Linked DNA regions of Homo sapiens: region 2 is linked to region 1. A link means that fine-mapping ties the variant in region 1 to the expression of a gene that starts in the linked region. Tissue or cell type: unexposed skin. Region 1 holds a variant in brackets; the other region holds the start of a gene. All regions are shown on one strand. Distances are from middle to middle.

The links.
Region 2: FHL2 starts here. The variant in region 1 is fine-mapped to the expression of FHL2 in unexposed skin (GTEx, PIP 0.98).

What each region holds. Positions count from the first base shown.
Region 1 is chr2:105,421,049-105,437,645 of GRCh38, forward strand. It overlaps a transcript of FHL2 not described here. Among named protein-coding and RNA genes, the nearest start is that of FHL2, 30 kb to the left of the region's middle. RefSeq lists an enhancer at 6,361-6,862. The variant C/A (reference allele first, on the strand shown) is at 7,803.
Region 2 is chr2:105,389,226-105,405,822 of GRCh38, forward strand. FHL2 (four and a half LIM domains 2) reads right to left here and starts at 9,826. Exons shown (of 7, transcript NM_001318895.3): 1 at 9,617-9,826; 2 at 7,422-7,472. RefSeq lists silencers at 9,560-9,779, 9,800-9,929 and an enhancer at 9,607-10,429.

The DNA.
Region 1 (16,597 bases):
TGGCCCAGTGTCCCTGTCCTATACTGGATCCAGCTCATGAGACAGATGCAGTTTATGGTCAGACTCCATGTGGTCCAGTGCTCCCTTGATAAAGAAGGTAATCCAATGGGAAGAAAGTGAACTGTCCCTGGTCCCATCGTCACTGGGTTCTCTCTGGCTTGTAAGGACAGCCAGTTTCACATGGAATGTCTGGGACAGAGTCCACACAAATTTGATTTGGTGTCAGTGATCTGGGGCTTTGTGGCAATGTTCTGCCCTGCTTGAGGTTACAGGCCAAAGTTCAAAGACCAGCAACCCAAAAGCCTGGTCACTGGAGTGTAGATGCTGGGTGGAGTATTCACAAGCACGCTACAGAAGGCCCAATGCCTGAAGTTAAGACCATAAGCTCAACTCTCCTGATCAAAAAGACAAACACTATTCTCTTAACACAAATGCTGTCTCTAGGACAAATGCTATCAGGATGATGAAAATCAATTTTCTGCCCATTTTTTGTTGTTGTTGTTGTTGTGACAGATCTCTGGCAACAAAATGCTCCAGATGAAAGAAATCAAAATTAAATACTGTCTGCAGTTTAACACTGCCACCAAATTCCATCTTTAGGTTGATTTTTGTGTCCTCTTTATCAAAAGGCTGCTTGATTGAGAAAGTGTCTAGCTCAGTTATACTATGGCTTGCATTGACCAAGAGAGGTATCCCAGCCTCATGACACTGATATCGTAACTGTCAAATGGAGGCACTTCTGTGATGCAGAGGGCACAGTTCCATGCATGAGCTTGCAATGCAGTCTCTGCCATCAGGGACTCAACATTCTAGGATTTAGTTTTCCAGATCTGTTTCTTTGATTTAATGGAAAAGATGTTTCTATTACCCACCATGCTAGTTTTATATTAAGACCAGAGTTCACTGGTACATCTTTTTGTTCCCATCAGCTTTTTGCCCCTCCTGGGGTCCTGTTGCGTGCATTGGCAGCGTAGCTCAGAGGAGTTGCCCTAGGAAAGAATCACGGTGGAGGGCAGTCCTTCCCCACATACATGCAAGTCCTCCAACACCATGCATGTCCAGCAGCAATCTTGGCCGCGTTGTGGACCAGAAAGGAAAAGCCATAGTAAGAAACAGCTGTTTGGCTTGAAGATGTGTTGGTTTGCTTATGTTTGTAACTTGTTTGCTTTTATGCTTTGGGTTTTCAAGATGCTGGTGTTATTGGTGAGAATGGCAAGAACTCCCATGCCTTGTGAACCACAACCAGCTCCTGGCATTCTCAAGTTGGTGGCAAGATGCATATGGAGGTGCATGTCATGTGCATGGGAATTGCAGGGGCCCTATGTGGATGGATCCTTGGTGCTTCTCAGATAAGACAAAACTACTTAGGAAGCAAAACTGTGATGGGAATAGTGGATCACATATAAGAGAAATATTTTTTTTATTTATAGTTTCCTCTTGGTTTAATTTACTTTTTCATTATAGGATTATAGCTCTAGATAAGACATGATCTACAAACTAAACCACAAGCCACTTAGAGACAACAGGACCATGAAAATCAATTTTCCGCTAATTTGTTGTTGTTGTTATTGTTGTGACAGATGTGATTCATCTCTGGCAAAAAAAAAAAAAAAAAAATGCTCCAGGTGAGAGAAATCAAAATTAAATACTGTCTGGAGTTTAATACTGCCACGAGATTGCATCTTTAGGTTGATTTTTTTGTCCTGTTTATTTTATCAATTGATTACTTGATTGAGAAAAGGATTGTCTGTATCAGTTATACTACAGGTTGCATTGTACAAGATACCAAAATCATTGCAGAACCACTGTTTTTCGTTCTGACAGTTTTACTCAATAGACACTGTACCTCTCAGATAACTAGGAAACGAGAGTAAAGTCTTCCGTCAATAATGTCAGAACACTAATTTACTCTCCCACTTCTTTCCTTTTCCTGCAGCTCAGACGGCATGGGAACCCATTACAACTCCCTCATAGTGGAAAGCAAGCTGAGGATGCTTGCATTGGGCCTGACTCAGGAAGTGGTATCAAGCGTCAGGTCCCTGGGGCAGCTCTTCCATTCCTCTCTCTGATGTTTGCCCCCAGAGGAATGAAGATTCTTCTAGATTTTAGTACAGAATGGAGGCTGTCAGTGATACCCATATGTTAGAAAAAGCCAACAGAGCAATAATGTCTCCAAAAAATGAAACATGAAGCTTTTAGAATGATTGGAAATTACAGTTCGATTTTGAATTATTTGCAAGCCACTTGAAGATTTCATAAACCTATTGCATCAACTCTAACAATAGTCCTTTACTGGTATAATTATCTGCATTTTGCAGGAGTAGAGATTGAGGTACAAACAGAGGACACATTTTGCTTGCCTGAGGCTTCGATGAAACTTCTGACAATATCAGGGGACATATTTATACTTCTAACAGTATTTTTAGCTATTTGATAGACAACAGTTGCTTCTCTTTTCAAAGATCACAGCCATTGAGGAATCCACCATATTTCTGTAGCAGGAAGAATGTTTATCTCTGTGTCTTGTCTTTCTGGTTAAAGGTATTTACTTCCATCACACTACCTGACTTCAAACTATATTACAAGGCTACAGTAACAAAAACAGCATGGTACTGGTACCAAAACAGATATATAGACCAGTGGAACATAACAGAGGCCTCAGAAACAACACCACACATCTACAACCATCTGATCTTTGACAAACCTGACAAACAACAGAAATAGGGAAAGGATTCCCAATTATATAAATGGTGTTGGGAAAACTGGCTAGCCATATGCAGAAAGCTGAAACTGGATCCCTTCCTTACACCTTGTACAAAAATTGACTCAAGATGGGTTAAAGACTTAAACATAAGACCTGAAACCATAAAAACCCTAGAAGAAAACCTAGGCAATACCATTCAGGACATAGGCATGGGCAAAGACTTCATGACTAAAACACCAAAAGCAATGGCAACAAAAGCCCAAATAGACAAATGGGATCTAATTAAACTAAAGAGCTTCTGAACAGTAAAATCAACTATCATCAGAGTTGAACAGGCAACCTACAGAATGGGAGAAAATTTTTGCAATCTAAGCCATCTGACAAAGGGCTAATATCCAGAATCTACAAGAACTTAAACAAATTTACAAGAAAAAACAAACAACCCCATCAAAAAGTGGGCAAAGGATATGAACAGACGCTTCTCAAAAGAAGACATTTATGCAGCCAACAGACACATGAAAAAATGCTCATCATCACTGGCCATCAGAGAAACGCAAATCAAAACCACAACGAGATACCATCTCATGCCAGTTAGAATGCTGATCATTAAAAAGTCAGGAAACAACAGATGCTGGAGAGGATGTGGAGAAATAGGAGCACTTTTACATTGTTGGTGGGAGTGTAAATTAGTTCAACCATTGTGGAAGACAGTGTGGCTATTCCTCAAGGATCTAGAACTAGAATTACCATTTCACCCAGCAATCCCATTACTGGGTATATACCCAAAGGATTATAAATCATTCTGCTATAAAGATACATGCACACATATGTTTATTGTGGCACTGTTCACAATAGCAAAGACTTGGAACCAACCCAAATGCCCATCAATGATAGACTGGGTAAAGAAAAAGTGGCACATATACACCATGGAATACTATGCAGCCATAAAAAGGATAAGTTCATGTCCTTTGCAGGGAAATGGATGAAGCTGGAACATTCTCAGCAAGCTAACACAGGAACAGAAAACCAAACACCACATGTTCTCACTCATAAGTGGGAGTTGAACAATGAGAACACATGGACACACGGAGGGGAACATCACACACCAGGACCTGTCAGGGAGTGGGGGCCTGGGAGAGGGATAGCATTAGGAGAAATACCTAATGTAGATGATGGATTGATGGTTGCAGCAAACCACCGTGGCACATGTGTACCTATGTAACAAACCTGCACATTCCGTACATGTACCCCAGAACTTAAAGTATATATATATTGTAGGGAAAAGAAAGAGAGATCAGACTGTCACTGTGTCTATGTAGAAAGGGAAGACATAAGAGACTCCATTTTGAAAAAGACCTGTACTTTAAACAATTGCTTTGCTGAGATGTTGTTAATTTGTAGCTTTGCCCCAGCCACTTTGCCTCAGCCACTTTGACCCAACTTGGAGCTCACAAAAACATGTGTTGTATAAAATCAAGGTTTTAAGGGACCTAGGGCTGTGCAGGACGTGCCTTGTTAACAAAATATTTACAAGCAGTATACTTGGTAAAGGTCATTGCCATTCTCTAGTCTCAATAAACCAGGGGCACAATGCACTGCAGAAAGCCGCAGGGAACTCTGCCCTTGAAAGCAGGGTATTGTCCAAGGTTTCTCCCCATGTGATAGTCTGAAATATGGCCTTGTGGGATGAGAAAGACCTGACTGTCCCCCAGCCCAACACCCGTAAAGGGTCTGTGCTGAGGTGGATTAGTAAAAGAGGAAAGCCTCTTGCAGTTGAGATGGAGGAAGGCCACTGTCTCCTGCTTGCCCCTGGGAACTGAATGTCTCGGTGTAAAACCCGATTGTACATTTGTTCAACTCTGAGATAGGAGAAAAGCTGCCCTGTGGCGGGAGACGAGACATGTTTGCAGTAATACTGCCTTGTTATTCTTTACTCCACTGAGATGTTTGGGTGGAGAGAAACATAAATCTGGCTTACGTGCACGTCCAGTCATAGTACCTTCCCTTGAACCTAATTATGACATAGATTCTTTTGCTCACATGTTTTTTGCTGACCTTCTCCTTATTATCACGCTGCTCTCCTACTACATTCCTTTTTGCTGAAATAATGAAAATAATAATCAATAAAAACTGAGGGAATTCAGAGGCCGGTGCCGGTGCAGGTCCTTGGTGTGCTGAGCGCCGGTCCCCTGGGCCCACTATTGTTTCTCTATACTTTGTCTCTCTGTCTTATTTCTTTTCTCAGTCTCTCGTCCCACCCAACTAGAAATACCCACAGGTGTGGAGGGGCAGGCCACTCCTTCATATATAATATAGATGTATTTGGTATTTGCTTCCTCTTCGGCAATGTAATGGCCACACTATGTCATCATCGGGGGTGTCTTTCTATCTTGCATGCAAGCTTTTACCCGGTGCATTTGTCAAAGTGCTCTTAGCTCTTGGAAAAACAGGTTCTCTGCTGCCATAAGGAAGTGAGAAGAAAAGAACTTTCCAGCTTTCTAAAAGGCAATGTGCATTCTGTCTTAGCCACTTCCCATCACCCCCAGCCCCACTAGGAAAAGTCAGTATTCATTTTTGACGTATAAAAGTAATTGCATCTATGTTACCTTAACCAGGCTCCATAATTCAAGTCAAAAGTAACCAAAAGCAGAATGAAAAACACATGGTAAAGAATGGAAACAGCATGGTCTATCAAAATACCTTTGCAGTTTGCTTTTATCTCTCCTTCCAGACATCCTGCCTAGGGTCGCTCTCTTCTGCTCTGCACCAGGGTCACCCTCCTCCCTTCCCTGAGCCAGCAGTCCTGGAAGGCAGCCTTTGATGTGAGGGCTCCCCACTCCTGCACCTACCTTCTGCAAAATTACAGGAAGAGGCTAGAAGCCCCTGTGCTGCTGCAAAGACCCCGAAACAATGCAGAAGGGGGGCCAGGCACTCAGGCGGAGATATTTTCCACTTATGTTGTGGCACAGAAGGGAGGTGCATGAGAACACACGCACAGCAACACCCAGCACTCCCACACTTAGGCACAAATAGTGCTGGGGTGCAGATGCTGCCGAGGAGGTGTGGGGTTGCTGAGAATTAGCCGGGTTGCTTTGAAGCTTCTCAGAGATCTCTACTCACATGGCCCTTATCACTCCTTGGTGAATGGTGCAAGGTTTTGGCTTTTTCTTTCTTTTCCTTTTTCGATAAAGACTTATGTTGATAGAACTGATCAAATAGGAAGGCATTTCGTTGGCTCTAGCCTAAAGGATCAAACTAAGCCATCTGCAGAGAATGGAGGATGCCTGAGAGGGGTGTGTAGGAGTAAGAGAGCCGCCCTTGGCACTGTAAGAATCCAGGCGAAAGGAAAAAGAAAACCTGCAAAGATGGTTTATAGCAGGGGACTGCAAATTTTGGTGGCTGCCCACACCAGGAAGTACATTTTTTACATCATAACCACATCAATCACCCTCACATTTAATGCTAGAAAAATATACTGTCATGAAAAAATTCTGGAAAGAATTTCTTACTATGTGAAAAGCATTCTATTCCCTTTAATTCTATTTTTTCCTGCTCTAGTCAATTTCATTTTGTTGTTAAAAATATGCTGATCTCAATCCACTGAACTGATTTCATGACCCATGATATGCACTATGAAACTCACCCGGAGCTTGAAACACTTCTGTTTCAGTGAAGTCTGGACAAGAGAGAGTGTCTTGTGAACATGTGGAGAGGGCAGCAGAAAAGCACCTCAATTTAGAACAATGTCACAAAAGAAAAGTGAGCTCCGGGGCTTGGGGGATGGAGGTGCAACTCTCAAATGTCAATAATCAATAGGATAAACGTGTCCCTGACTTTCGAACAGAGGCCCTTGTGAGGGAGTTACATCATTGGTCTGCCTCAAAAGAAACTTTATTCAGCATTTCTTGTCTTGCATGTGAAAGGAATGAGAGTGTTTGAGGTTGCAGGCAAGCATTTAGATGTTGAATAATCCCTCTAAACCATTGTGCTTACAGCTAAGGCAGCTTCACTAGGCCCTGGGTGCCTGGGTGTGAGGCTTTGGGCTCAGAGAAGGGACCCCCTCTGACAGGGCCCCGAGAACCAGCAGTTACACCTGTGGACCTCACATACTTATTAAAAGTGCTCTCAAAAGTGCCTCAGTTTGGACCATAAATTCAATAGTCACTCTAAGTATGAATAACTGAGGAAAGTATGTCTAGAGTATGCAGTCTACTTTATTCTTATTGCTTTGTCACAAAAACACACAGCCCATGTAAATTCACCTCTGATTTCTAACACTGTGATGCTCACATTAAGCAAAGGATCAAAGCAACTGGGTACCAGGTAAGTAATCCTGTTCTGAGAACTCATGGTCATAAAAGGTCTCAGTCAACTAGAAGCCTGCTGAGGGTGGCCCCTAGTCTTTCCCACCTGGAGGAACAAAGGTCCTTTTAGATTCCAGTCCTGGAGGCCCTGAGCCACCCCCAAGTGAGTGGAGGTATGCGTATATGTGTAAGGGCGGCCCGTGCCACCCATAGGTGAGGTCTGGACATAGCTCAGCTGACACAGATTTGGGAGCCAGGGGCTTGCTGAGCTGTGAACACCCCATCTTCCCCAAACTACAGCTCATCTCCAGCTTCTAGTTTCCCTGCAACCCCACTTCTTTTGTACCCAAATAATTCTCATGTCCTGTTGACTTGCTCCCTCCCTGGTGGATCAAACCTGGCTGGTTTGCTGGGCCTTGGAATTACCTTCGGGATCTTTCCATCCCTGAGAGGTTGGGCTCCTCATAGGCCGCCAGCCTGACTCGGAGGACCGTCTACTACCCTCTCCTGCGGACAGGCCCGCCCATGGCTGCCCCATGACCATGCTTGCCCTGTCCCTTGGCTTCGTGTGGGTCAGCTTGTTCTGCCACCTTGCTAGGCTGGTTCCTGGAGCTTCTATCTGTTGTGGCCTGGGTTGCCACGCTCTCCCTGGTCACCTGTGTGCCCGGACCCTGTGTCCCTCACTGGAGCACTCTGAGCTAGGCCGCCTCAGCTCTTCCTTACCTGCTCCTCTTACTGTGGGGATCCTGCTTCCAGGTCTGCCCTTGGCGGCTGCTCTGTACTCTGTACAGACA[C/A]CCTGTTGGATGGGAGGCATGTCATGGCCTGTCCCCATGCTAGGCTTTCATTTTTACTTTGTAACCTACTTTTATCAAACGTCTGTGGTTGCTTAAAAGTCAATAATATATTTGGAGATGGGGTGAGATGGATTGTTTTAAACCTTACCTTCATAAGATAAAACAATGTTGAAAGTTAACTGTGAGCCTTTGGCGTCCTATACTGCAGAGGAGAAGGGCAGAAGGGGATGACCTGTCCTGTTTAATGTGGCATACAAAACCTGAATCTGGGATCCAGAGGTTTCCACCCTCCCTCCACTGCCACAAGGGGGAAAAAGGACTTAATAAACACCAAAGACTTTGCCCCACAATATGATGGTCAAGAAATCGGCTGGGAGTCAAATCGCAGTTCTGCCTCTTAGTAATTGGTAGCAAAATGATGGTCTCCCAAAATGTGCACATCTGAATTCCTGGAACCCATGAATATGACACCTTACATGGCAAGAGGGGCTTTGCAGATGTGATTAAGTTAAGGATCATGAGATAGGGGGATTATTCTACATTATCTGGACATCCCCCAATGTAATCACCAGTGTCCTTATATATGAAAGATGGAGACAGGAGAGCCAGGGTGAAAGAGAAATGTGAAGATGCTATGCTCTGGGCTTTGAAGATAGAAGAAGGGGCCATGAGCCAAGGAACGTAGGTAGCTTCCAGAAGCTGGAAAAGGTGGGGAAACATTCCTTCTCTAGAGCCTCCAGAATGCAGCCCTGCTGATACCTTGATTCTGGCCTAGTGAGACCTGTTTCAGACTTCTGACCTCCAAAAATGAAAGTAAATTTGTGTTGCTTTAAGACAGTAAGTTTATGGTAATTTGCTACGGCATCCATAGGAAACTAGTACAGCAACTATAGCTCCTTAGTTCAGATACTTTTCTAGGTTTGTTCCCTCATCTGCAGCCTAGGAATTGTAATTGTCCCTGCACCAGGTGGCTGCTGTGAAGACGGGACAGTGCAAAGCAAGTCAAGAGTATGGGGTACTTTCTGTGATACAACGTGGGCTCAGTTCATGGTAGCCATGGCTGTTAGTGCCTCCTTGAATCCCTGCAAGTGACCGACAAGGTTACTGTTATTATTCCCATTTTACAGACGTGGTTCTGGGAAGTTAAAATCTTGCCTGGGCCCAGTGTGAACAGCAGAACTAGGACCTTGTGCCCTGGCAACCTGACTCGTCAGCTCCCACCTCCCTTCCTTGACAAAATGCAAGTGTAGTGGAAATTTTTAAAGTGAAGTTTAAGTGGTGAACAAGGGACATTAGACTTGAATCCTAACAAGAACACTGTGACCAGTGATAGGCATCGTTGGGGCTTAGCAAACGACACCCCAAAGTGTGGCGCTGTGGCTTGCTGAGTGCTTTGAATTGAAGCACACTGGAAAGGCCTCTGAAGCAAAGTCTCTGTCTGATCTTCTCCTGTCCTCCTCTTGTTTCCTTTCCTCCCTTAAAGCAGGTCAGAGAAGCCAGAACCACTCTTCCTCCAAAATAAAACCTAGAAATAGGCCAGGCGAGGTGGCTCACGCCTGTAATCCCAGCACTTCGGGAGGCCAAGGCGGGCAGATCACCCGAGGTCAGGAGTTTGAGACCAGCCGGGCCAACATGGTGTAACCTCGTCTCTACTAAAAATACAAAAAATTAGCTGGGTGTGGTGGTGGGCACCTGTAGTCCAAGCTACTCTGGAGGCTAAGCCATGAGAATCGCTTGACCCTGGGAGGTAGAGGTTGAAGTGAGCTGAGATCGCGCCACTGCACTCCAGCCTGGGCAACAAGAGCGAAACTCCATCTAACAAAACCCTAGACATATTACTTTAAGCTTTCCCCAGCCCTTTTGTGTAGGAGTTGGGTATAAAGAAATTCCCAAACCTACCTTGTCTGAAAGGAGATCCTAAGACCTCATTCCACAGAGGTCCTGCCCTGTGTCTGGGAGAAAAGACTGCCCCATACAGAGGCCAAGATGAATCAGAGCAGACAGGCCTTGCTGGGGTTCCCCACTAAGTCTGTTGCCATTAGGCCATACCCATTATGTCCAATCACATTTTTACACCACTGTACACTCTTCCTCGACTCTAAACATAAAAATGGACAGTTTTCTCTTTGATCTTTGGGTCTTCCTTTCTCAAGCCTCCCATATCACGAAATAAATTAGTTATGCTTTTCTCTTGTTAATCTAGATTTTGTGATAGGAATGCCTGCCATGACCCTTATGATGGGGAGGAAGAGTTTTATAACATTTCCCCTCTACAATATGAATTACAGTCAAAAAGTTTCTAAGATCTCAAATTAAATACATGAAAATAGATTATTCACAACTTCATCGTTCAACAGACATTTATTTAGCATCTAGTAGACACCACTCACTGCTGTAGGTATTGGGCATATCTCAGTGAACAAAATAGAGTCTCTGCATTCATTGGAGTTCACATTTTATTGGAGGAGAGATAAACATATATGTAGGTGGATGTGTATATGTGTGAGATAGCAAGTGAACCAGGGTAAGGAGCTAGAGATTGATAAGGAGTGTCATTTTAGATGAAGTGTTTAGGGGTAGCTCTCAGATTGGGTATGAATGAAGGAAGGAGGAAGGCATGTGATTGTCTTGGGGAAGAGTCTGACAGAGATGCCAGCAGGTGCAAATGCCCTGGGGCAGGGCAGTGCTTGGCACAGCTGGGTCAGGGCAGTGTGACTGGTGCCTCTCTAGATGGACAGAGAGAGAAGGAAGAGATGAGGTCAGATTCCTAGGGCCTGGATCATGTAGGGCTCTGTTGGCTATGGTTGGAGTTAGGATTTTATTTTGACTTGGGAAGCCATTGGAACGTTTGGGAAAAGGAGACACACTGTCTAATTTAAGTTACAAATATGATCGCAAATTTTAAACAGAGACCTGTGGTTAAATTGGGCTCACATTGGCCTCTGGGGTTGCCTGGCTGCTCCTGCCCAAGGCTGGCGGAGGTTTGCTGACACTTCCCAGGAAAGAGTGAAGCACAGCAGACAAAAGTAGAAGCAGCTCAGGGCAGCAGGCCAGGATCCTGCCGGAGCTCATCAGCAGCCAGAGTGGAGGATGTGCTGCTGCTGCTGCTGTTAATAAAAGTAGCTGAAGGGTTTATCAGTCCTTCTACCCAACTTTCATTATTCAAACAATGTTGAACTTGCCACTATGAGTTTCCAAACTGTCTGACTTGTGGAGAGCCCTGTCTTAATTAGAAGGTCCTCATCCCACTTTTCCTTGCTGCCTGCAGAGATTTTCCTTCTGAGAGTGTTTGTAGACATGAAATTGTGGGTGTGCTTATTTCTCCCCTCACTTGGATGATCGCCCATGCTGGTTCATTTGAGTCCCAACACATTTGCACCTGCTCATAGATTTTTGCATTTTCAATTTGCAGGAGTAGAGAAACAGGGACCTAAAAGGAGTTTGTCTCATGCACTTTCCACATCTCAGCTTTATGTCTTACACTCGCTATTATTTTTTCTCTGAACCTAACTGATTTGACTGTCTTGTTTGACCTCTGTCTTTGATTTTGGGATTGGAAGGGCATAACATTTGGCCATTGGTTCTCTATTCAATGTAAATAAAGTTGAAGGAAAGAGACTATCCTCTCTCACCTGCTTTTTCGGTTCCTAAATTATATTTAAAGAGAGCAAAATATTACAGTTTCCTAGTAAGTTAATTAAAAGATTCTGAAGAAAATTGGACGCTTTTCAAAAAGGAAGTTTACAGAGTTTAGAATTTTTTCAGCATTTCCATCCTCTTCTCTTCCCCCAACACAAACAGACTTATACAGAGGCACACACAGACACACGCAGAGACATGTGTACACAGAGACATGTGTGCACACAGGCACACTCACACAAACTAATAAATTAGTAAATGGAAGCTTTCAAGTCAGAGAATCTACTCCTTAAGCATACATTATCATCAAATGTTAATACTGATTGCGTCCAAAAAATTCCATGTAAAAAACACGTCCTTGTGCTACGTATTGAAAGGTAGGGAGTGAATATGAAACCTGGTTCCCAGCCAGGATTGCAGAAGGGAAAAGTACTAGCCAAGAAGAGAAACTTCTAGCTCCTTCCTTTGGATTTCAACACTCCTAGAACTCAACTGAATTAAACACAACAGTTTGGTTCAGCAAATATTTATTAGTCAGTTGTGCACTGTGTGCAGGTTACAGTGCTAGCTCTCAGGGTTTAACTAGGATGGATGAATACCCTTCCCAGCCTCTTGAGAAGGTGCTGAAACTAAAGGGAGAATTAAAAACGAAAAATAAAAATAAGTTCAAAGTCCTCATTCTTCTTCTTCTTCTTTTTTTTTTTTTTTTGAGAAGGAGTCTCTCTCTGTCACCCTGGGTGAAGTGCAGTGGCACGATCTCAGCTCACTGCAACCTCCACCTCTCAAGTTCAAGCAATTCTCCTCCCTCAGCCTCCTGAGTAACTGGGATTACAGGCACGCTCCACCATGCCCAGCTAATTTTGGTATTTTTTAGGAGAGGCAGGGTTTCCCCGTGCTGGCCAGACTGGTCTTGAACTTCTGACTTCAGGTGATCTGCCCACCTCGGCCTCCCAAAGTGCTGGGATTACAGGCGTGAGCCACCGCGCCCGGCTTCATTTTTAAGATGAGGTCCTTTCTCCGTTGTGGAGACTTTTCCAAGTTTCTAGTGGGATTAGTGTGAAACTGGCATTGCACTGCTTGTATTTAAATCTGGCTTCCCCTGTACTGCCTCTGTGCCCCTTTGCCTCTCAGTGCCTCGGCGTCCTCACCTGTAAACAAGGAAACCAGGAACACTCCTCATAGAGCCACCCTGTACATCCTGAGTGTGTGTGCAGCATACACAACACTGCTGCACACACCATGAGCACTCGAACGCCAACAACTATTATCTCTCTAATTCAGAGCTTTATTTTATTTTAAATCTGGAATCCAAATCAGTCCTATTCCAGATTCTTTATGAAAATGATTTTTTTCTTTTTTCCCCTTTTACTTTGGGGAGTCAAGAGACTTTCTTATTTCATCTTACAGAATGTTGAGTTTTCAAAATGTCCAAAAGAGAACAAAGAGAAGTGAGGTAGCCCTTGTCCTTAAGTCATTACCCACCCCTCAACACATTTAGCATATTTTCTGGTACCTTCAAAGGAATCCTATCACTTTCCATCTCCATATTGTTCACATTCCTTCTCACCTGTAATGTTCTCAGCCTCTGCTAATTTCTCCTTTCCTTGAGGCACCACGTCCCTTTCTCTGCAAACTTTATCCCAAGTATTTTAAAACATTCATAGATTTTGCCCTCAATACCTGAAGCATTCATTTATGTCATTCAAACCATGCTGTCCCTTGCATATGGCAACAGGGTTGCTCTTTTGCAATTGAAGTCTAATGCCAACTGGATCGGAAAGTACTGGAAAGAAAGACATTGACCAGGCACGGTGGCTCACGCCTGTAATCCTAGTACTTTGGGAGGCTGAGGTGGGCGGATCGCCTGAGGTCAGGAGTTCGAGACCAGCCTGGCCAACATGGTGAAACACTGTCTCTACTAAAAATACAAAAATTAGCAGTGGTGGCCTATGCCTGTAATCCCAGCTACTCAGGAGGCTGAGGCACTAGAATCACTTGAACCTGGGAGACGGAGGTTGCAGTGAGCTGAGATCTTGCCACTGCACTCCGGCTTGGGCAACAGAGTGAGACTCCATCTCAAAAAAAAAACAAAACAAACAAACAAAAAAAACAAGACATTATCTTTAACTTGGTTGCACCCTCGGCAATGAATAACATGGTTATAAGCTTCAGTTTCCTTCTCTGAAAATAGGAATAATAACAAAATTAATAATAATGTTTACCTATAGTGCTGTTGTATTAAATGAGCTAAAACATAGTTACTGGATATAATGATCTTTCAATAAATTTCAACTTTTTTTTTTAAATGGGGTCTTGATCTCTTGCCCAGGCTGTTTTCAAACTCCTGGGCTCAACCAATCCTCTCACCTCAGCCTCCGAAACTAGCTATTATTTTTAATAGACTAAATCATTCTGGTTGGTTATTTATGATTTTTATAATTGGTGGTAATAATTAGACTGTTTTATGTTTGCATAGAATTTTGCATTACGAAAACTTTCATGATCAGACTTAGTATAGAAAATTTAGTAAACTATTTAAAATGTAGAGAAAAATGTAACATTACTACCAATCTTATCCTTCAGAATCAATAATTTTATATATTTTGGTGTATTTTTTCAGTTCATATATTATGAATATTGCTTTCTAGTTTGAGTTTTAAAAATCAAAAGTTCTATGCAAACTTTATTTTTGATGGTTGCATATATTCCATACTATGGCTAATCATATTTTATTTAACCATACTTCACTTTTGAGCTATTGCACTGTTTATTGGTTTTAGTTATTACATATTATTACATATATGTAATGTTTTCATATAACCCATTGTGCCTTCATCTTAACCATTTCATCTTCCTACAAAGGATACGACTTGGAGTAGAACATTCAAATCATGTCATTTTCTATTTTGTGTTCATACGAAACCGTGAACTGATACCTTGAAATTACTCTAGATTTATCTGCACAGAACTAAGCCCAGGCAAAAAGCACTATGATGGCTTCTACTTAACGTGAAAGTAGGTGGTTCCCATAGCCGCTTCAGATACCATCTAGACATGCTTACTCTTTAAAGACCAGAATGACAGCACTTTGGGAGGCTGAGGCAGGTGGATCACCTGGGATCAGGAGTTCATGACCAGCCTGGCCAACATGACGAAACACTGTCTTCACTAAAAAAACAAAAATTAGCCGGACATGGTGGCAGGCGCCTGTAATCCCAGCTACTCGGGAGGCTGAGGCAGAAGAATCACTTGAACCCAGGAGGTGGAGGTTGCAGTGAGCCGAGATTGTGCCACTGCACTCCAGCCTGGGTGACAGAGTGAGACTCCTTCTCAAAACATAAATAAATAAATAAACAAACAAACAATAAAAAAAGACCAGAATGAAATTCTTGCACTTTCTTCTTAATATCTAATTATCTGCTCCTCCTTAATAAAACAGATCAAGTATGTTTTATGCATTGTTGCCTTGATATGGTCTTAGTTCAGTTTAATTTTTCAGTATTACTTTTTAACTATAACAAAAGTCCTGTGTTAAAATGGATTTTTATTCCTCTTTTCTCCATCTAAAATGTATCCATTAAATTCAAATGAAGTATCAAATTGTAAAACATTAAATTGCTCAGAACTTATGTGAGTTCTTTTCTATTTTTCATCCACATTTTAGTGTATTAGAGATTAAGTGAGGAGGTGCTGACAAATCAACGGTAATAAAAAAAAATCAGTAAACCAGATTTTGTGGGGTGTGGAGGGCATGCAGATCAAGGCGCAAGGTGGTTGAGTTTTTCATGATTCAAAAGGGACCAGTAATAGTGTAGAAGTCAATTACCAGATCATACTTTGAACTGATGTTATATTGCTATATTCTAATAAAATGTCTTATCTAAATCTTTATCCTTTTTTACTTCTCATCTATCCAACTATTATGAATATTTTAATATGTTGACTAAACAAATTGGTCATAATGATATATAGAGATAACCAATTTTCAAGGAATTAGATTTTGAATCTACAGTAAAAGACATTGGCCATAAATTGGAAGAAAGAAGATTAGCAAATAACTTGATTTATATATACATATATATATGTTTTGTTAATTATTATTTACAGTTTCCCACATAATTTAATGTTTTTGGATTCACCTTAAAATATCTCATAGTGGTATTTTTTTAAAAAAAACGAATATTAAGTTAATGGTTAATCTTTCAATCAAAGATATCTTAGAATGAATAAATAATTAAGATAAACAATTAACTGCAAAAATAGTTATCTTTGAGTAGTAAGACTATATATGATTTTCCATTTTCTTCTTTTTGCTGGTCTGTATTTTTTATAGTAAACAGATTATTTGTAGAGTGAAAAAGATATAAACAATCAATATAATTTTACCTCTTTCTTTGGTGGGGAGAGAATGAATTAGAATCAGTCTCTGGGCCATATCTTGTAAATATGAAACATTTCAGAGATCGGTAGAAAGAGTGCAGGTCCCTGTGCTTTAGGTCATGGGAATGCAGTGAGAGGCATGGCTTGGCCTGGCCTTGGGGATCTGAAATCAATGGAGAACTCTGGAAGCCCTGAATAGAACAATGAAACCTAAAAGTACGAAACCTGCTGAAAGGCAAGATGGTGGGTGAGCAGTCAGGGAACCCCGTATTGGAAAATATGCAACTTTTCATGGAAGTTATGCATTAAAATATTTTTTAATATAAGAAAATGCCTCCAAAGTGTAATCATTTGAGTGGATTAGTCACCTACTCAGTTAAATACAAAAACTTGTGTAAGGGGTCGGGTGGATCTCAACACATAATAGACCTTATTCCAGCCCATCCTGGATACCCCAAAACCCTGACTTGGTCATTACACATTCTATGTATGTACTGATACACATTCTATGTATGTACCGAACACTCACATGTACCCCATAAATATGTAAAATATTATGTATCGATAAAATTTTGAAAGCCTAGCAATAAAATAAAATTCAAATAATATTCCCAAGAAACAAATAAAACAACTATAGTAAACTTACATATAGCAAATATGAGCTACAATAGCATTAATCTGTAAGGCAGGTGTTTATTAACACTATCTTTGGACGTCAGAATAATTTAGAAAAATAAACTGGACTGACAACTTTATTTTTCTTTTTAGATTAGACT
Region 2 (16,597 bases), 32 kb before region 1:
AGGCTCTTGAGCACTTGAATTATTATTCTGAAGCCCAACGTATAAATATCCTTTGTACCGCAGCCATCTCGAGTTGGAGCAGCCATGCTGGCACAAGATTCAATGCTTTCCTGTAATTGTTCAGTTATTGGCCTTGAAAGTTGCTGTCATTTATTTCATCACAATTGAGAGCTGTTTTTCCAACATATATGTTTTTCCAATAAAGGGTGTGATTTAGCTGTGGGACAAGAGGCTCACTGCCCATTCCATGCCCACAAACATAAGAATAATAATTTGGGAATTTGAAATAAGAACGATGAAAGGACAGAGAACTATAAATTGCGGAATTGTAAAAGCTGGAAACAAATCCCCAGATTATCTATGACAACTTCCTCATTCTATGGATGGAAAAACTGAAGCCCACGCATATTTATGAAAAAGAGGGTCCACTGAGCTTTCTCAAATAGCCGTCTGACTTACAGAAAATGAACTCCCAGTCTAACTTGAAAGGCCGTCTGTGTGGGTCAGGACAAGCACCAGCCCTGCTAGGGAAGGGAGACAGTCTACAGCCTCTGTTAATGTCTGCAGAGCTCCATTTATGTTGGCAGCTGGTGAAAGGGGTACACCTGTTTTCCTCTGAGGTAATAATCGTGATCACGGTGCTCATATACCTGATATGTGTTTTCCACTTCCTCTGATTCTACAGGACCAGGACAGAAAAAAACAAAAACAAAAAAAATCTGGCCAGGTGCGGTGGCTCACGCCTGTAATCCCAGCACTTTGGGAGGCTGAGGCGGGTGAAACACGAGGTCAGGAGATTGAGACCATCCTGGCTAACACGGTGAAACCCCATCTCTACTAAAAATACAAAAAAAAAATTATCCGGGTGTGGTGGCGGGCACCTGTAGTCCCAGCTACTTGGGAGGCTGGGGCAGGAGAATGGCGTGAACCAAGAGGTAGAGCTTGCAGTGAGCTGAGATCGTGCCACTGCACTCCAGCCTGGGCGACAAAGCGAGACTCCGTCTAAAAAAATAAAAAAATAAATCTAAGAGAATAAACTCTGAAAATAAGTAGGGCTCCACATTTGCTCAAAGTACGACTGAGGTTATGAATGTCATCATGGTGAATGTCATCATCAGTGATATGATGAATATCATTATCAGTGATACCAGCTCCCAGCAGGAACAGTAGCAGCTGCTATCTGCTCAGTGGGTCCACCTGGGAGGAGGCACTTGGCCCTGTGGTTCAGCTCCTAATTCTACAGAATTCTTTCTGAGAGTGGTGGATCCCTCTTCTACCTTGTTCCTCATCTTCTAAGAGGACACTAGAGTTCTACAAAGAGCAGAGAGCATTTCTACTCCAACCAACAGGGCAGAGCATAAAATGAGCAACTGCTGCTACCTAGGAGCACAGCAGGATGCACTGTGTGAAAGCAGGCCCCTGAAGGAGTTCCACACAGTTACATACTGCACAAGCCCTGAGCATCAGAATAAAAAGTCCATGAGCTAATAAGCAAGCTCAGAGCTTCCCTTCTATTACAACATGTTTAAAAGTATACCTATTGTCCTGTATTAGAAATCTCCTATAACTTGCATTTTTTTTTTTTTTTTGAGACAGAGTCTTGCTGTGTCACCCAGGCTGGAGTGCAGTGGCATGATCTCAGCTCACTGCAGCCTCCACCTCCCGGGTTTCAGTGATTCTCCTGCCTCAGCCTCCTGGGTTGCTGGGATTACGGGCACACGCCACCACACTCAGCTAATTTGTGTGTGTGTGTATGTGTGTGTGTGTATGTGTATTTTTTTTTTTTTAGTAGAGACGGAGTTTCACCATGTTGGCCAGACTGGTCTCAAACTCCTGACCTCAGGTGATCCGCCTGCCTTGGCCTCCTAAAGTGCTAGGATTACAGTCATGAGCCACTTGCATTTTTTACATCCCATAAATACCTGATTGCTCATTCATTCACTGAATAAACATTGGTTGAGCTGGAACTATGTGTCTAAAGTCATGAAAAGTGCAGAAGATACAAAGATGAATAAAATGCAGGCCCCTCCCCTCAAGGGACTTGTTATCTAGTGAGGAAAAGAGATATATACCAAACAGACTACCAAGCCCCTTACTCAGTGCGTGCTGGAGGTGCACAGGTATGATGGGCACGCAGAGGAGGAGCCCCTGAGAGAGCAGGCAGGCATCCCAGAGGAGATGCTATCTGTGCTAGGAACAGGTCAGCCAGGTGATATGGCAGGTCAGGTCAAGGGGTGGAGTAGGCAAAGCCAGAGACATGAGAGACAGAGTAGGGTAGGCAGAGAGCCCAGGAAGATGGAAGACCCAGTCAACAGCCAAGGCAATGAGGGCCTGGATGCCTTGTTCATGGACTTGGGTATGCCTCGCAGGCAGTGGAGAAACGGACAGCCCAGTGAAAGTTTACTGCATGGAAGCCTGCCTTTACTATGCAAGACAGGGGGCAATGACTCCTAAAAAATGTATCAGGGTATCAGAGCCCATTTCTGAATGATTTCTTCAAATAAAAGTAGGACATCTTGGTTCTACAAGGACTTATTAACCTAATTGTGTACAATCCATTTACTCTCTGTGAACTCCACATCCCTCCTGACAGGTTATCAATAATTCCTGCTCCTTAGCTGGTACACAGGAATGCTGAAAGCATCAGGCAACAGCCTGCAGGGAGATGCCCAAACATAAGGCGCAACCCCTCCTTTTTATTTCACTGAATCAAATTCCAAATCACAGTTTCCTGGAGTTCTTATTCCTCACCAAGCTAAATCATTCCATGATGTCATTACCCCTTCGGCCCTGAATAGGGTATTTGAAAAAGCTGGATCTTAGGGTACAGGCTTGACTCCAGGCCAAGGGAACTGCAATGGGTGAGGCAGGTGCCAGGTGCAGCTCGGAGGTCTGGGGATGGCCCAGGGAAGGCTTTGATCTCTGAGTCTCTCGCTAGCCCAGCTTTGACTCAGATGTAAGAATAGGTCGGGTACAGAGGCTCATGCCTGTAGTCCCAGTACTTTGGGAGACCGAGGCAGACATATCGTTTGAGCCCTGTAGTTCAAGACCAGCCTGGGCAACATGGAGAAACCCCATCTCTACAAAAAACACAAAAAATTTGCCGGGTGTGGTGGCATGCATTTGTAGTCCCTACTACTCAGGAGGCTGAGGTGGGAGGATCTTGAGCCCAGGAGGTCGAGGCTGCAGTGAGCCATGATAGCATCACTGCTCTCCAGCCTCAAGGAAACAGCCTCATGGTGACACAGACCATGTCTCCAAAGAAAAAAAAGAAAAAGAAATAAAAAGGATGTAAGAATAAAGGTTCAGAGGGCCAGGGAGCAACAATGCACTCTACTACTCACAATTCATACTAATTTTAAAAGTTCACAAGCTCATCAGTGTGATCTATTTTTAAATTTTCAGATTCAAAAACTGTAAAACAAAGTATGAGTGGGGAAAGTATCAAAGCTGGAGGAAAATAAAGGGAAAAGGAAACAGAAAGAGTAAAGAGAAGGGGAGAAGGGTGGTGACAGGACAAAAAAAGGAAGGAGGAGGGTAAATGAAATGAGGCAGAAGAGAGGCAAGGACCCTGCATGCCAGGAAGCTTTTTTTTTTTTTTTTTTTTTTTTCTTGAGACAGTGTCACTCTATCACCCAGGCTGGAGTGCACTGGCCCTATCTTGGCTCACTTCAGCCTCCACATCCTAGGTTCAAGCAATTCTCCTGTCTCAGCCTCCCAAGTAGCTGGTATTACAGGCGTGCATCACCGCACCCAGCTAATTTTTTTTTTTTTTTTAACCAGAAAGATTTCGATCAAAGGAGGGGCTGCCATGACAGACAGCCTCCCTTGGCTTGCTGGCTCAGGCCTTGGAGTTCCAGGAGCCTGGCAGATCCCTACAGGTAAAGCCTGAAGAGGTCAGATTAGCAAAAGAAGTCTATTTAAGCATCCTTTTCAATGCACCTTTTATTGACTACCTACTTTGATCTGACCCCAATGGGCCCATTTTCTCCTCCCCCTTTGAAACCCCAAGTGCTTCTCCCTATCAACCCTGCTGCAGGAGGCTCCTCTAACATAGCCATTTCCTAAGGAGAAATCTGTGAACGTCCCCAAGCCCTTCCTGCATGCAGCCCTTCAACACATGCAAAAGCAGCTTCGGTAAGTCAGTCCCTGTATCTTTAGATGTCACCGGGGATCCGCAAGGGATATTCAATTACTTATCAATAATCAACCAGAGCTTTCCAGAGACAATTAGGAAAACTGGTCTATGTGGGCTCTTTTAAAAAATACATTATAAAAGTGCAGTGTTTTCATGCAATTGCCCCGTCTTCTACCAACCGTAAGCATTGGGAAGGGTGCCCACTACCTGTCGCTGAGACCTCACCAGCAGGGAACACACACAGGACCAGGGGCTTTGTGAATACTTGTGGAATGGATGAACAAATGAATTGACGGGTGGATGAATACAAACATGTCAGAGTACAAACATACAGGCAAAAATCAAGCATGAAAAATTAGAAACATATTATGTGAACAATCCACTCTGCATAGCAAACCCAACATGTAATGTGGTTTGGCATATGACATCATGAGCTTCCATCGCTGCCCTCGTCCCTCCTTCCAGATAAGCTGCTGCTTCCGCAGCGGATATAACTCTTCTTATTGTGTTTGGACTCCAATCCCATGTGAACACACAGCTGCACAGTCCAGGATGCAGCCTGGCCAGGTCAAGAAGCAAAAAGCCAGCTGGGAGTCGTGCCCACTTTGGGAAGAACGCACAGATCCCCAACACGGGCTCCAGGTGTCAGCAGAAGGCCCTGATGTTCTACAGACATGTGATGCCTATAATCAAAGATCCTCCATTCAAAGGCACGGGACTCTCACACCTGGAAATGTGCTCAGAGAATACCCCGCACCATTTTATTTTCCTACGGATGGGAGTATCTACACACAAAAACCGCTCACCCCCAACACTCTTCATTTGTCTAGCTAAACGGGTTGTTTTAAACAGAAATTCTGATAAAACGGAGAGGGCCATCATGTCAAGGAAAGTTGCTGTTTTATAAACTAGAATAATGGATCAAGCCTTGGAGTCCCTAAAGAGAGAGGATCTCTTGAGCCCAAGAGTTCGAGGCTGCAGTGAGCTGTAGTGCTGCCACTATACTCCAGCCTGGACCACAGTGTAAGACCCGGTCTCTAAAAAAAAAAAAAAATTTATATCAGTTGGATATGGTGATGTGTGCCTACAGTCCTAGCTACCTGGGAGACTGAGGCAGGAGGACTGCTTGAGCCCAGGGGTTTGAGGCTTTAGTGAGCTATGATGGCACCTGTGAAAAGCTACTGCACTCCAGCCTGAGCAACAGAATGAGACCCTGGGAAAAAAAAAAGAAAAGAAGGAAAGAAAGAAAGAAAGAGAAAAAAGAAAGAAAGAAAAAAAGTATCTAGCATCCACTTGAAATCTATTTTTAAATTGTTGGATTTTAAACAATCTTAGTTTGTAAGGTATAAAATTGACTATGCTTACCACTGTATAATATATTTACAGATTAATTTAATAAGCCTTTACTAAATGCATGTACAGACAGGTGTCAGAGGTGTATTATAGTTTACATAAACTGGTAACTTCCAACTTAAAAAAAATAAATAAACATCTTCATCTCTGGTGGTTCTGCATGAGGCAATGTTTGAATAAGGTAAACTGCTGTCTTCTGAATTATCTTTTGAATATTGAATACTAAAAATAAAGGGAAAACAATAAATATCAAATTTCTGATCTGAAGTCCATGACTACAAGAGGAGTTACACTTGTTTTGATGTCGTTCAGCCTTTTGAACCCAGCCGACAAGAATGTGTTGAGTAACCACTGTTTTCCATGTGCTACGTGAGGCACTGGGAAGCTGAGATAAAACACACAGTCTATGAAGGAGTTCCAGTCTAGTTCTAGCTCCAAATAATTTAAATCACCTTTAAGATCCCATCTTGTCATTTAATCTCAAAACACATCAATTGCAGCCATGCAGGACAACCATAGCTGCACACGCTAGAATGGCGGGTGGCCTCGGGTCCGTCAATCACACCAGTGTGGGGACCAAGGGAGACTCCATCCTGCATGCTATGGCTCTACCATGCCTTCCCTGAGTGAGTTACGAACACTTCTACACCTACAAAACGAAAACCACCCACTCTTCTTCATGGCAGGGGTCTCCTCTCACCTCCCAAGTGCGGCTCACTGTTCACTCTCCCAGCTATCTGAGGTGCCTATGACCCCCACCCCCATGCTGGCCTTTCTCTTGGCATCCAGCAGCTTCCATGAATGACTGGCCACCTCCTTCTCACTGCAGTCCTGCCACTCTGTGGGGTTTCTCTGGCGCACTGCAACAGGACTCTGTCCCGAGAGGCTTGCACAGTTCCTTCTGCTTCCTTCATTGACTGCCTGCTTCTTAGTGACTCCAAAAGTTGTATTAACCCAAGCAGACAGGTCTATTTCCTTGTTGACTGACAAGCTCCATATTTACATACTGCAAGGACATTCTGGCATTAATTCTGTTCACCCATGAAAACAGGGCAGCTGCTTCTGCCACAGACATCCCACATCTCACTCAAGACCATATGACGGGAGGATCTTGAAGCCGCAGACAGAATCAGGCTAGTAAAGGCGTGGGCCACCGAAGGCTGAGGATGAGTGTGAAGTCTAAGTTCACACCAGGCAAGACACCACCCACGAGCACTGGGATGGACCTGGGAGACCAGACGCTGCTCCAGACCCCTCGTGACATCCCCATGCAGAGAGCATGTTTTACAGCAAGAGGAAAGCCAAGACTCCCAGGAGCAAAGTAGTGATCAAATCTTAAAAAAAGGGAGAATGACAGTTGGTGGGGAGACTTTTTAAATAGATGTTACCAGAGAGCTGTAATAGTCAGGGTTTTCTAGAAAAATAGAACCAACAAGAGATGTACATAGAGAGATTTATCGCAATGATTTAGCTCACACAATTACGAAGGTGAAAAAGTCCCAAGACCTGCAGTCAGTAGGCTGGAGACCCAGGAGAGCCGATGGTGCAAATTGCAGTCTGAAAAGAGGAGACTCTATAGACCCAAGAAGAGCCGATGTTTCAGTGTGAGTCCAAAGGCGGAAAGGACCAATGTCCCAGCTCAAGCAGTCCGGCAGGGGGGCTTCCCTCTTACTCAGTTTTTTTGTTCTATTCAGGCCTTCAACTGTTTGGACAAGGCCCACTCACATTATGGAGAGCAGCCTGCTTTACTCAGTCTACCCATTCATATGTCAATCTCATCCAAAAACACCCTCCCAGACACACCCAGAACATATGACTGAATGTTTGGGCACCGCATGGCCCAGTCAAGTTGACACATGAAAGTAACCATCACAGTAGCTAAAACTGAAATCCACAATTTAGGATAACAGAGGAAATTCACTTGACTCACCCCAAAGTCAAAATGCCAGCCTAGTCTCCAGGAAGACACAGTTCTCAGCCACTAGAGAAAGCACACGTGTTTTGTTTCAGATGGTCATCTTGAGGAAGCGAACTCAGTATAATGCAACTTGAGATGGACACTTAATAAATGTGGCTTTGATCAAATTCTCATAATAAAACCGCACAGAAGAACCCAATGTCTAATGTTTCCATTCACCCAAGCTCAAGGAACTTTGTACCTCAGGGCATCTGAGTCAGAGAGCCGCTTAGCGACTCAGGCCCGGTGCTGACAAAGGAGGCTGCCTGAGTCACTGAGGCTGAGTAACTGGCCCTCGGCACAGGACAGGAGTAAACTACTCCTGATATCTAGTCTGTTTTTTTTTTTTTTTTTTTTTGGCAATATTCTATTGGGCGTTTTTGACTGCAATTTAAATATCTTTCAGTACTGGAAATGGTTTAACACGCAATCTTGGGTCAAAGTATGCATCATAAGGCCTCATAGAAATATTCAAATGTTAAAAAAAATAAATAAATATTCAAATGTTCCTCCCGTGGTGCGTTTAGTGGTTAGAACTCAGGTTCTCCAGTTAAGCTGCCTGGGGTCAGATCTCAGGGCTACCATTTACAGCCCGGGAAACCCTGAGTTAAAGTTACTTTGATCTCTGTTTTCAGTGTCTTTACCTGTAAAAATGAGGCTATCAAATATGTATACACTGTCTATGATGTCCAGGCTTCTTAACAACCCTAACAAAAAGACAACATCATTGTCCCTGTTTCCCAGTGGAGAAAACCGAGACACTACGAGATTAAGTGACTTGGCCCAGGCTGCACAGGTTGAGGGACCCGGATGTAAATTTAGGCAGCCTACATGCAGTCCCCGGCATCCCCTAGCCTACTGCATCTGCCTGTGGCTATTTGTGAGACGGTGAGCTAAAATGAGACAGAACCTATGTGCCCAGAACAGTTTCTGGTCTGTAGTAAGCCCATCATTAGCCTTCATCGACATGTTATGGTGTAAACGCATTTTAAACCATGGCAGGCTAATAAACACCGTGGAAACACAATTCTGTGTATTAACTGATGATCTTCTAAACTGGGGGGTGATCTAAATCCAGTAACACTTGACAAAATTTTATATAAATGCACAATGAAATGTTCTTTGAGTTTGGTTTTATTAAAGTTTAATTGATAGACTAGGAATTCCTGTACTTCTAAGACTTGATGCAAATGGTTTTTGTTTTTTTGTTTTTTGTTTTTTTTTGTCTAAAACATCTTCAGGATAGTGCAAAACCTCTTTTCTTTAATATATTATTATAAAACACTCATTAGTAGAGTCAGCACCAAAAATGTGAGATGTATTGGGAGTTGTGTTTTGAAGACAGTTCTCCTGATTCTAAACCCAAATTGTGATTTATTACCTTCCAAAATATGTGGAAGGGAGTGCGGGCCTTAAGTTCAGTGATGTCTAAGTACACTGCTGCTTGCAAGCCAGCTACACATTTCAGCTAACCGGATTAGCCTACTTCCAGTTAAAACCCGACTGAGGATATGAAAATAAATATGACTGATTCATTTAAAATCAGAAAAACACTCAATATTTTCTTCCCTCTATTTCTGGTATGCTAAGATATCACACGAGTGCGACTTAAGAAAAACTTAGAATCTTTTCATTTAAAATAAGCCATTTTTGTTTTAACCGAATGGTTCAGTTATTAAATGTCTACCTGAGTCAAGGAGCGAGGTCACACTGCAAACTCCACTTATTTCTACTAAAGGGAAATGGCCCGGACTCCCCCGCGCAGACCACCGTGCCAGGACAGCCCGCTCGGGAGTCGGGCCTGGAAGCAGGCGGACAGCGTCACCTCCCCGCAGCCGCCGGCTGGGACCCGCGGCCAGCCTTTACCCAGGCTCGCCCGGTCCCTGCCCGCATGGCGGTGCCCCACCTGGTGAGGACGCGGGCTGCAGTCCTCCCTCTGGGGATGAGTCGGTGGGCTCCTCTGAGCTCCAGCGCCCCCAGGGTCTAGACCCCTCCCATTGCTCCGCTCCCCTCTCCCCGTGGTCTCCCCACCCCCAACCCCCAGGGTTCGGCTCTCCTCTCCCGGGTCTACCCCACAGCTCAACTCCTTTCTCCCGGCTTCTCCCCGCACGGTTCGGGTCCCCTCTCCCAGTGGTCTTCCCGGACCCACAGCTCTGCTCTCCTCTCACCAGTCTCCCCAACTCCGGCTCTGCTCCCCTCTCCTTGGGTCTCGCACCGGATTCGGCCCCCACTTCCGAGCCCTGGTGGCTAAGCCCCTCGGCCTCCCTCCGGGGCGCAGGGGGTTGGAGGTACTCACGGCACCGCAGCGGGCCGGGGACTCCCGGACGGGGCTGGAGGGCGCGGGCGGCTGGTGGCTGCGGCTCCGCTGCCGGCCGAGTGGAGCGCTGCGCAGCTCCCGCCCTCGAGAAACCCCGCCGTGTCATTTGACCATATAAGGAGATGCACGCCTCGGCTCGCTGGCACCGGGCGTGGGGCGCGGGGGGCGGGCGCCCCCAGGCCTCGCGGTTGCCGTGCCCCCGCCCCGGGCTGCGGCGGTCCCGGCCCGTACCCTTTGTTTGCCAGGGCTCCTTTCTTCGTGCCCTCCGGGTCTTGGGAGCACAGTAGTTATCGGGAGCGTCGCCTCCGGCGTGGGCTCTCGGGCGCGAGTTTCGGACGAGGCCTGGGCGCGGTGGCAGGGGTCTGCCCACGCCGGGATCTCTGCCTGGTCCCAGGAGCGGGAGACTGGAGAAGCCCCAGGACGTGCCGGGGGAGGCGGAGGGAGGAGGGGGTCACTTCTCAGGAGGCATGTGCCTGGGATATATTTGCAAGGTGGACGTTTTTCCTTCTTACCCTGCAGATGCTTCTTTACGAAATGAACACCACAGATGACCATAAAGAATCCTTCGTTCCACTACGGAGGGGACTAAAGGAAGGTCCTATCCCCACCTCTCCCTCTCGGGGCCAGAAGACTAGTTAGACATCTTGGATTCCCCTCCAGGGCGGGAAAACCAAAGTGAGCTGGGAGCGTGCCTCCCACATTCCAAGCCCGGGCCCTCTGCGTGACGCTGACGCTGGGTAGGGACAGATGGCACTGTTCAGCATTGTCGCAGGGAGAGCACAGGTTGAGCCCATCCCTGGGAGAGGGTGCGTCGTGATGGAAACATTTGCTCCTGAGCAGGTAACCGGTCCACTTGCAGAAACCGGTGGACGATGAGTAGGTGGACCACAAAGGCGTCCTCGGCACTTTGGGGGCAGGTGTATTATTTTTAACATTCGGGGCAGCTCATAGGAATACATCCTCCAGAGAAGGCGGGAAGAACTCCGTGATTGCTTTCTTTTAATTGATACTCTCCGTCTGGTAGGCCTCATGGGTCTCCATCATGGAATCACAGAACTTGAGAATAAAGGGGCTTCATCACCTTAGCTTCCACTCGGTGAGCACTAGCTCTACCTGGTATCTCATTTGATCCACACTCCTTTAAGGTAAAGATTTTTACCAGATTTACGGTGAGGAAAGTTCAGCTCAGATTTGCTCCAGGCCACGTGAACGGTAACTGTGCCAGCTGAGATTTGAACTGGGATGTGGTAGATGGCAAAGCCATGTAAGTATATTACGGGATCAGAAATGCCTCTCATCCCTCAGTCACTCAGGTGACTCCAGAGGACTGAGACTTGCCATAAGCCCAGCCAGAACTAGATGTGCGGAATACAGCCCTCCCCCGACCCCACCCCACTGTGTCCCTGAAACAGGACGCTTTCCTGAAGAACCTGAGTTAAGGCCACCCTACCTGAATTTCCACTAAGTGTCAAGACAGGCTAGTATTTTGAAATTCAGAGCAAAGTTTGTGTAGAAAAGGCTCCCAGCCCCTGACAGCTACCTAGATGTGTTGTTGATATCGTTACAAATTAGGAAATGGTCTCCTAGTTCTCAAATGGTGAGTCTTAAGCTTCAGTTTGTAAAAACAAGCCCTAAAATGATGAAACATTAATTCTGCATTTATCTTCTTTCTGATTCCTTTTGTCTTATATTTTAATTTTTTTTTTTTTTTTAGCTTTCTGACTTACGGGTGTAATCCATTTAGCTTTGCTTTTTTACTGATAGAGTTATTTAGTTCTGTTATTTTTCTTCTAATAACTGCTTTAGCTGTGTCACATAGGTTCAGCTATGTTGTGTTTTATTATTAAGAAATTCTGCAATTTAATTTTGTGTTTAATTTTTGACCTAATGGGTAGCAGAACATTTTAAATGACCCTGTGGTCATTCGATAGGGTCAGTAAAATCCGGACTCTGGAAACAAACATACCCAGTTTCTACAACAACGATGCACAAAGAAAAACAAGAGAGATGGAGACAGAACCAAGAGATTAAAAAAAGACTTAGCCAACTGCCATGTATGGATCTTATTGGATTCTTTTTTTTTTTTTTTTTTGGATCTTATTGGATTCTAATCAAAGAATAAACTAGTAGAAAATCAATTTTTATGAGACAACCTTGGAAAATATGACACTGACAGGATATTTTCTAGTATTAATGAACAATTTATGTTAGGGGTGATAATGTGATTACACACACACATATATTTTTCTTTTCTTAAGTCCTTGCTTTTCAAGAACAGTGCCAAAATATTTCCTAGTGAAATAACATTATGCCTGGAGTTGTTTCAAAATAATTTGGGGTGGGGAAATGGATAGGGCCTATATATATACGAAATACTATCAGCCATGGATTGTGGATAATCGCTGAAGCTTGATGATGGATATGCAGCAGTTCATCTTACTAGTCTGTCTCCTTTTGTAATGCTTGAAAAATTCCATAATGAAAACATTTTTAAATTACAGATGAACATACCATTTTCTCTTTACCCAGCATTTCCCTTTATAGGAAATTATCTTGTAGATATACTTGCTCCTGTGTAAAACGATAGACACACAAGAGTAGTCATTGTAGAATTGTTTGTAATAGAAAAATACTGGGCCATGTTATGTGTTCGTCAACAAGGGCTTAGTTAAATACAGTATGGTGCATTTTAGAATTATTTACATATGCGGCTGTTAAAATGAACGAGGTAACTATATTTACTGATTTGGCATGATCTCCAAGATAAATCAACTGAGAAAAATAAAAGTAGAGAACACTTTGTAGGTAGAAACCAACCATTTGTGTTCATGAGCAAAGAAAGGACGGGGGAAGACAATGTATATTTATAAGCGGTTGCTTCTGGGGAGATCTGAGTGGCTAGGGGTCATGGGGTGGAAAGGAGATTAATTTTTACTGTACACATTTTTATTTCTTGTAAATTTTGAGCTATGTTAATGTACTCATTCAAAAACTAAATATATATATACACGAATATATACATATATACGTATATATACACGAATATATATATACGTATATATACGTATGTATGTACATATACATGTATATATGTGTATATATACGTGTATATATACACGTATATATACATATATACATATACACATATACACACATATACACATGTATGTATATGTATATATGTATCTGTATGTATATATGTATATATATGTGTATATATGTATATATATGTGTGTATATATATATGTGTGTGTGTGTATATATATATGTATTTGAGATGGAGTCTTGCTCTGTTGCCCATGCTGGAGTACAGTGGCACTGTCTTGGCTCACTGAAACCTCTGCCTCCCAGGTGCAAGCGATTCTCCTGCCTCAGCCTCCTGAGTAGCTGGGACTACAGGCATGTGCCACCATACCCGGCTAATTTTTTATAATTTTAGTAGACACGAGGTTTCATCATGTTAGCCAGGATGGTCTTGATCTCCTGATCTTGTGATCCACCCACTTGGCCTCCCAAAGTGCTGAAATTACAGGCGTGGGCGACCATGCCTGGCCCAAAAACTAAATATATTTTAAAAATAAAAGCAACAGACTCCTTTAAGGAAAATAGGAAACAAATTTGTTAAACTGATATTAATAGTAAGTCAAAGGAGGATGGCAAGAAATTGAGGAGGGGAATGCAATTTCTGGGTTTAATGACATATGCTTTCATGAGCAATTCCATCGAAGGACAAAGTATTAAAAACAAATTTTCATGAGACAATCTAAGAAAATATGTTTTGAAAAGTTCCATCCATCTTGTACATCATTATATTCCTAGGACCTAATTAATTATAGAGCATGGCACATAGTATGTGCTTAATAAATATGTGTATTGAATAAGTGACAGATCACAGAATTGTTTGTGACAAGTCTTTCACTATAGAAAGCGTAATGCTGTCTATGGCAGCATAGCTTGATCTTTGAAGTCAAGCCAGGATTTGAATCTCTGTTCTATCTATGACTACTATGATCTCCAGTAACTACAAAACTTCCCTAACCCTCAGTTTGCTAGTTTGTAAAATGGGCTAATAACATATAGTCTGTGAAATTGTGGCGAAGGTCTTTTGAGATGCACATAAACCACTTAGAACTATTAACACATTACTTGGCATGAAGTAGGCCCTTTGTAAAGTCCTCTGTTTTATTCAATGGCAAAGGGGAAATTAATCCAGAATAAGAAGGAAATGGACTGAACTCCCACCAGAAGAAGAATTAAGGTTCAGATCCTGTTCAGATCCTGTTTCTTCTTGAGAGAAAACCTCTCTGCTATGGATAAAAGGCTAGTTCATGGAAGAAAATAAAAACAAAAAGTACTATTTCCTGGGGAAAGGATCAACGGTGACTGTGATCAGTTATTCAAGTTCTTCTTTTGTTTATTCCAATTATCCTGACATTCCTTCTTGAGACAACACTGCCCATAACGTTTTCCCGTCTCTCCTGTAGGTGGGCTTCAGGGAGAGGCACAGCTAGGAAGGGAGGAAAGAGAGGAAAAGACTTCCTGCGGCTAGCAGGTCTCAAAGCCTTGTCCCAGAGTGCAGCAGGATCCCCTGCAAACCTGTTAGAAGTGCACATTCTCAGGCCAGCTCCTGCTTTAACACGCCCTCCAGGTGATTCTGATGACTAAAGGTGATTTGAAGTAAAATAAATACCACTTAGGGCTTCCAACTCTGGACTCGGTAATTTACCAGAAACCTACGAAATGTCAGTTTAGGGCGTGGGGGAGGGACAGGGAAATAGAGATAGACTAAACATAGACTAGACTCAGGAACTCTAAAATCCAGTTGGAAGTATTACTTCCTCTGTCAGTTACTTCACTCAGGGAAGCAGGAGGTAGAAGTTTGAGCCAGGAGGTAGAAGTTTCAGCCAGTGGGTCTGAGCTGTACAAATGCTGAAATTTCATTCTCTGGGAGAGGCCAAAGAAAGGCAGGGCTTCTAGGCGTGTGCTCGCAACTGCCACCCTGTGGTGGGGTCGTGGGGGGGAGGCTGGTGGGCTAGACCCATCTGTGCAGGGGCCAACAGTAGCCTCCTACCCGGATGGGGGCTACCCCAGGGGGATTAGGATGAGCTCACCATTACCAGGTAGAAAGTGAACACAGGAAAACATGAGCTGGAGGTCAGACCGCCCTATGTTCGTTACCCTAACTGACCACTGCCATCAAGATTGTTAAGCATTTTGTCACCGTTAAAGGATTTCACACAAGCTGTTCCTCCCACTCAAACCTTGGCCAGGAAACTGGTGGATGATTTGCCCTTGATTCAGAGGCAATCATTCTTAATTGCCTCACATGGTTGGAAGGTGAGTAAGTGTCTAAGATCATAAATGCTGGCGGGAAGGGGTCAGGAGTGATCAAACCAGCACCCCTCCTGGCAGTGGGGTCAGGAGGCAAGTCCCTGCATGCCTTCCCATGACACAGTACCAGATCCCAGGGTGGTGGCACAGAAAGCTGGATTCGCTTTTTCTGGAAACACTATTTGCCCGGATCCAGCAGGGAAGTCTATGAAAGATGACTCTACGGGCAGGGTATGCACCTGCCTGTGCCCGTGAGCTGGGTGCAGTTGTGACGGGAGACCCAAGGGCCTCCAGCAAACAGGAGGAACTTGATCTGGTTACAGGAACGATCTTGCAGGATCCAAACTTTGTTTCTCTGCCTGTCAGACTTTCAGGAAAAGCTCAGCTTTCCACAAAGGGCAAGCTCTTTTCCTTTTCTTCTCCCTTCTGCCATGCTCTGGTTAGGAGGGAAAATGATTGGCTCTTTCTTGAGATACACAATTTCCATATCCCATTTCTTCCCTCTCTCCTTTTTCACAAACTATTTGTTGGATATAAATAATCAGTGTTTAAAGCCTCAAAACATGCCTGACTTTTAGCCAAATCCACAAACAACTCCATGATTCCGAGTTTCCCATCCTTGGTTAGAGTTTATTTGGAGCGTCGGATACAGTTTCCACTGTGGCTTTGATACCTCTTTAAGAAAGACTCTGTTTGGTACATTAATGACCAATAGAATGAAACTATTCACACCCATAGTTCATTTGGGCCAGTAAATGTTGCTGGATGGTTTCAGATGAAAAGTATTTGTAAGGTAGACTCTGAAAAACTTTGCTTCTTATTTGAGATCTCTTTGTCTCTGATTTCAGTCCTTTTCAGGAGCAATCCATTCACTTCTCTGCCTGCCTTCTCTTAGAGTTTTACTCTTTTTTTCCTCTGTCAATGATTCCAAAATCCATTTAAAGGAAGTATTAATGTCTAAAGTCTGTGCAAACCTGGCAAAATTCTCTTTTGAGTGAACGGTTTGCTTCCCTAAAATACCTGAAATGGGAGATTCTTCCAGGCATTTCTGAAATGGGGGAGTCTCATGCCTCACTTGTTCCTCAGAATGTTTATGTTATTTTATTTGAGACAGAGTCTTACTCTGTCACCCAGGCTGGAATGCAGTGGAGCAATCTCCGCTCACTGTAAACTCTGCCTTCCCTGATTCAAGTGATTCCCCTGCCATGGCCTCCCAAAGTGCTAGGATTACAGGCGTGAGCCACCATGGCTGGCAAGAGTGTTTATTTTAAACCACACCAAGATCTGTTATTCTTTGTGAATTAACTTTATGAGTCAACATTAAAAATTTGAAATCCCAAGTTCTCTCTTCACTGCCACCAAGGTCGTTTTGTGCTATTTCCACTTTGATTAGGGTCATTAACAGAAAATCCCAATAGTCTAACTAGAAAGAGCCTGGACTGGCCAGGCTCTAGGAGGCAGGGGGTGAACCCCAGGTCCAGGAGCTCCTATGGAGCAGTGT